Linked DNA regions of Homo sapiens: region 1 is linked to region 2. Evidence: fine-mapped expression QTL. A gene starts in region 2. The other region holds a variant in brackets. All regions are shown on one strand. Distances are from middle to middle.

The links. PIP is the estimated chance that this variant, and not a neighbour inherited with it, causes the effect.
Region 1: its variant is fine-mapped to the expression of CFAP61-AS1 in prefrontal cortex (ROSMAP, PIP 0.92).

The regions. Positions count from the first base shown.
Region 1 is chr20:20,363,905-20,366,815 of GRCh38, forward strand. No RefSeq gene overlaps it. Among named protein-coding and RNA genes, the nearest start is that of INSM1, 2.7 kb to the right of the region's middle. The variant T/C (reference allele first, on the strand shown) is at 1,630.
Region 2 is chr20:20,266,100-20,269,010 of GRCh38, forward strand. It overlaps CFAP61-AS1 (CFAP61 antisense RNA 1), which reads right to left and starts at 1,738. Exons shown (of 4, transcript NR_183979.1): 1 at 1,395-1,738. The region is part of intron 21 of CFAP61 (cilia and flagella associated protein 61); the gene reads left to right. RefSeq lists an enhancer at 967-1,467.

The sequences.
Region 1 (2,911 bases), 98 kb after region 2:
AGCACCTCACAGGTGGAGGACACCTCTTGCGCCCCAAGGTCAATGTCATCCCGATGGGTCCCGTGCCGTCCTGACTCTCCCTGACCTAATTCTTTGGTTATGACTTTCTCACCTTCTGGGCTTCGCCTCTGCCAGCTTTCGCCGACGTCGCCCTTCCCGCCGCCCGCCCGGGCCTTCCTACCCGCTCTCCTCCCTCCCTGGCCCGACGGTCCCACTGAGGCAAAAACAAACAGCCCTGAGGGCACTTCAAGGAGCGTGCAGTGGCCCCGACGGTACTCTCGGGGGGATAAAAGAGGTGGCCAGCCACGCCGTCGGCCCCCGGCCGAATAATGGGCGCGCAGCAGATTGCCAGGGGGCACTTGAAACTCGAGGGGAGGGAAATACTTGAGCGCGGTCCCTCCCCGCGAGGACGCACGACGCAGCCTCGCGGATCGTCCCTTGTTCGCTCTCTTTCATGCACTCTCCTTTTGTGTGGAATTATCTAAACGGGAGATCCCTGGCAGCTTTATGCTAATGCGCCGAACAAAGGCAACGGCCCGCGGGCGGGAGGCCCGGAAGGTGCCTGGGGCCGGGCCGGGCGGGGTGGCGGCCAGGCGGGCTGCGCGTGTCTCTCGCGTGCCCCTGGGACTGACACAACAACCCCTCATTCCTGCAAATACAAAGCCTCTCACCGGCTCGGGTCGGGCGCACCCGGCGCAGGGAGGCGCTGGTCCCTCCGGGCGGCGGGCACTGCAGCGGTAACGCACGGTTCCTGCCGGTTGTGGCTCGGGGGACTGAGGGCCGGGAGTGGGGGCTTCTGTGAAGCCAGAAGAGAAGTCTGCAGCAGAGTGGTGATGAGGGGCGCTGACACCTCACCCCCAACGCCGACGTCTCCAAACGCGATACCCTCTGCGGGGTGAGAATGCGGGCCCGCCCGGCTCCTCCCGTGAGGCCAGGGCCTCCTGTTCTCCTAGACACCCCAAGGAGCCAACTCCTCCGCAGAAGTTCCCCGCTTCTGCTCTTATTTCCAAGCTTCGCGCTTTCTACAAACTCCCTGTTGCCTTGACTTTGATTTCCAGCCGTGGTGAGGGTCAGAGTGAACCCCGGCGCGCTCCCCGACGGCATCCCCGCACACCAGGATAGGAGAAATTGGAGGGCCTGGGGCCTCGGGCTCCGCAGTCGTCGGAGGAAGAACCCACCGCGGGGTCCGCAAGGGAAAGTGAAGAGGCCCGGGATTTTTCCAAAGCGCTGGCCAGGACCCCGAAGGAAGGGGAGGAGTCACCTGAAGCCGGGGAAGGCCCCTTGGGTGCTCTGCCTTGGATCCTTATGTTCACTGACTTTCGCGAAGCCCCCCTGGAGGGGGGCAAATCCGCGCTGTTTCCCCCAACTTAACTTCACGCGGCCCATTCTCCGAATCGCGTGCGCCAAGGCCGGCGTCGGGGGCGCACTGTGATGGCGCTTTGCTCTTCCCAGGCGAAGACAAATATCTCGACCCGATGTCCCCATGCATGCGGGTGCACAGGTTCTGAGAAAATCACGCAGAAGGCGGCTGCGATCCACGGCCCGGGCTGGGCTACACCTGCTTGGAGGTCGCTGGTGTGTGCGTGCGCGCGTGCGCAGCCTAACTCCTTCCAGCCCCGGGTGGTGAAA[T/C]TAGTTTCCAATACTAGTACCTTTCAAGTTTCCATTTATTTTGACTGTACCCGTCTGAAAGCAGATTTCATTTACGCTAGCAAGACTGGAAGCCACAAATAAAGAAAAAGAAACGGATTCATTGAATCTCAGTATCTCAGTAGCGTTTAATAGATTCCCTTGGCTAAATTCAGAGCCCTGTTTGAATTCACTCACGCAGGAGTTGTTTTGTTTTTTTTGTTGGTAGAGGTGCCGGTTTCCCATCCCCACGGCTTATTTACAATTATGGGTGTTGTTATTTTTAAAGGATTCACAAGGTGACTAACTCTCTGTTATCTGTTGAATGGAAGGAGTGTTACATATGCAAGACCGAATGGGGCAGGCCGAGCCCCCGCCCTATGCTATTCTACAATCCAGATGGGATTCGTGATTAGAAAATAAAATTGGCCAAAGCTGTCTCGGAATCCTTTTCCCACTTCTAATTTCATCAGCACTATTAATCAGAGCTCAAAAGAGCAAGGAAATAACATCAGTTACTTTTAGATAGAAATATGTTTATAAATTTTAGATAAACTCATTTTAAGATTTCTAACTTTTGGGGAGACTAGCACTCACCACAGCATTTTTAAAACTAGGGTGAGACTTTTCAAAATATATTTCACTATATGCATTCTTCCCTTTTCAGTGTGTGAGTTAAAATATTACAAACATAAAATTATCAAATATCTTTCCCTTGATTAACCAACCTGATTAACCCCTTAATTAATTAAGCCTAACAACTGTCCCCATCACAACTTATGACTCATGTGGACTCTATTTTTACATGTTTAATTTCTACGCCAGGGTATTTTCAGAGGGAAAATCCAAAACAATTAAATACCTTCAGTGGAATTAAGCGTAAGTAAAACTCAGCAAAATCTGTCTGGTATACAAAGCTTTGCAGAAAAATGTTTCCTTCTCTTTCAATAAAGTGACATTTTCCTCACAGCATATGACATTTTATGTGGCTTGGCTATTTGTTCCCCAGTGTTGGACGATCAGGGCCACTACGCACTCGTGGGGTTCTCTGCCCTGTCCCCCGAAGATTCTGCCTTTTGTGTTTCCTCGGGGCTGGGCTGGACAGAGGATGGAGGCAGGCGGCCCAGTCTGGGTCCAAACGGAACGGCAGCGGAGGTGGGGGTGGGGGTGGGGGCGGGGGGAATCTTCGCTGTTGTCTCTTCCTGGTGGCACAGGGGAGGCGGCTTGTCCTCTCGGAGGCCTCAGCCTGCCTCAGAGTACAGATTGCCCCCCCTCCCCCCGTCCA
Region 2 (2,911 bases):
CTCCTAAATAAACCATTGGCTTCTCTGGCAGGCTGAAATACATTTAGCTGGGAGGGCATTCCATATAGAAATACAAATTCATGCCAAATCACTTCAGTCACCTTGTGACCTCTATTTCTTAACTGAGACTTTGGGTATATGATACTTGAGTTTCATTGCTGGGCTTTCAAATCCCTTTTCATACTGCAGAAAGCCTAGTGATCTTTCCAGAACTGCATTTTGAAAAGAATATAGCTGTTGCAGCATTGCTTCTGAGACATCTACAGTACCATACTTGGCTGAAGCTCCAAGCCATTTCTTTGATAATTTCAGCTCTACTCTATCTCAGTGTCACTTGTATCCAGCATAGTGCCTGGCACATAGTAAATGCAAAATAAATGTTTTACTGAATGTAAGTGAAGACAGTTCAGGATGTAACTCTTTTCCTTACCTCCCACATGGTGAGTTTTATCAAAACTTTTTGCATTCGGCCTACCTGGAAATAGATGGTCAATTGAGATGAAGACAAGAGAACCCTTGAATGAAATTGAAGCTATTCTTTAAAAATTCATCCTTAGTAATGAGAGTAATAACATGCTGGCTACACAGGATGAGTTAAGCTCCTCCTCACGAATAACAGACATTTATAAAGTCAGTCTAGCTCAGGTTCTGGAGTCACGTGACTTGGGTTCAAATCTTGGGTCTGCCGTTTCCCTGGGCAAGTTACTTAACTGCTTTGTGTCTCAGATTCTAGATAATATCTACCTCACATGGGTTGCTGAGAGGGTGAAAAGAGATAAATGAGATTACATGCCATACTCAGGACAGTCTCTCATACATAGAAAGAGTTTCATAGAGGCTGCCATTAGCATTGCTCTTACTTCTATGTGTGATGGAATTAAAGGTACCCTAGAGTAGAAGTCTCAGCCCTTGCCACCAGGGCCCTGATGAAGTTGAGGATATCAGTCTCTATTTAAAGACAGGGATCCGTGTACACCAGGTGCCAGTCAGCTATAGAGGCACTGTGGCCTTCAGGAGAGCCCTGGAGGCTGTGAAGTTTGGAGAAGGCCTCCCCGAGAAAGGAGGATTTGAGCTCAGTCTTGAAGAGGGACAGGATAAGAAGAGAGAGAGGCTGGGGGAGTTTGGATTGTGTCCAAAAGACACTGGGCCAACAACGTGGGCTGGGCAGAGTCTGTGAAGGGCAGCAGCAGGAGATGAAGCCAGAGGCATGGGCAGGGACAGACACTGGCGGGCCGCAAGCACCCAGCCACGTCCAAGTTTAACTGGTTACCTTTTAGGGATGGGAGCTGACCAGGCGGGTGCCGCTGTACACACATAGCACTTTGGGAAAATGGCCTTTCCATCTGTAGTACCCATGCCAGCAGAGAGAAGGTGACCACGGGAGAATGGCTTACCATGGATGGCAGTAGCCAATAGGGGCGAGGCAGCTGTGGATGCAGGAGCTAGCTGGAAGTGGCCACCCTTGCTGCATGTGGTGGTCTTGCTGACACAGCCACTGCTAGCTTATTTCCAAGTCAGCGATGAGATGGTGGTGTTGCAGGGCTTTTCCGTAGTTCAGCTAAAGATGGGGTCCTTGTCCGTCCCGTGGCCACGAAAACGTAGCCTCGCAGACGGTTTGAAGGGTGAGTTAAACAGGGTTTTACTGGGTGAAAGGAAAAAAATGGGGTGGAGGAGGGGGAAGCAGGATCCTCCGCAAGGCAAGCCGGCTACTTGATTCCCAGGTTCCACACAGGAAGAGGAGGGGCCAGGCTCCTCCCCACTGCAGATGGCATGCATTTCCGGAGGCTCCACCCCAATGTGCAGGCTGGTTGGAGTTTTTCTAGGGACTCCCTCCCACCTGCCTGTCTCATTGGCATTTGAAGCCAGAAGCTAGAAGTCTGGCACATGATGGAAAGCAAGGAGCAGGGCTGTGCTTATGCACGTTTGAAAAGTCGCATGGAGCCATCCGTGACCGTCCTGGACATTTCAGTCCTTGCTTTTTCTTCATGTCACCCTAATAACACCAGGAGGAATGTGGACAGTTTTCATCATAGTTTATTTTTACTCCCTCAGTGCTAATTTCCCCTTTTTTAAATACTTTAGCATGTGAGTTGGGGCAAGGGAGCCAAGGACAGTGAAAAATAGTTTCATCGTGTCCCACTGGCTGTGGTTGGGTGACATGTCCCTCCGGGAACCACACCCTGAATCCTAACAAACACCAGTGCTGATGTTACTGAAGCCCAGGGATGTGAGGGGAGAATGGTGGATGGATTGTTCTAGAACAGTGGATATTGGGCATCAAGAACAAGAGATACTCCCAGGAGGAAGTCGGCTCTCCTTTGAACTTCTACCCATTGCAGACGCACACAGATACCACCCCAGAGAGTAGCTCCTTCCCACAGTCACTGTTGTATTTCACATCTTCTGCTTCCAAAGGAGAACACAGTGGTTCTGTGATGGAATTAGTCCATCCAGAGGACATGGTTTTCCGGGCTCTAGAGTTGGATGGATTTATAGAAGTAAATTACCCTAAACTATTAGAACTGCTCTAGTGCCATGGAGAAGAGCTGACATCACAGGCTCAAATGCTGCTTTCAACTGCAAACAAAACCTGGAGTGTTCTGCTGGGGGGTTTCTGATAGAACCCAGCAACCCGATACATTATAACAATTTATGGCACTAATTGAAACTAATTGAAATTCATCTGCTATTACCTCTGTACTTTCCATGAAAATGAAAAGTAGGATGAAAGTAAAGTAAAAAAAATAAACTACCTTAATGGCTCAAAATGGATCAATTATTTTCATCTTTAGCTAAATACAGTTTACTGCCTTATTAAAAGCATGTTTGTAGGAAAAGTATAACATTAAAATTCCACTGCATGCATCATCGAACAGAGGCTTTGTTATGTTATATCTAATATATTCTTCCC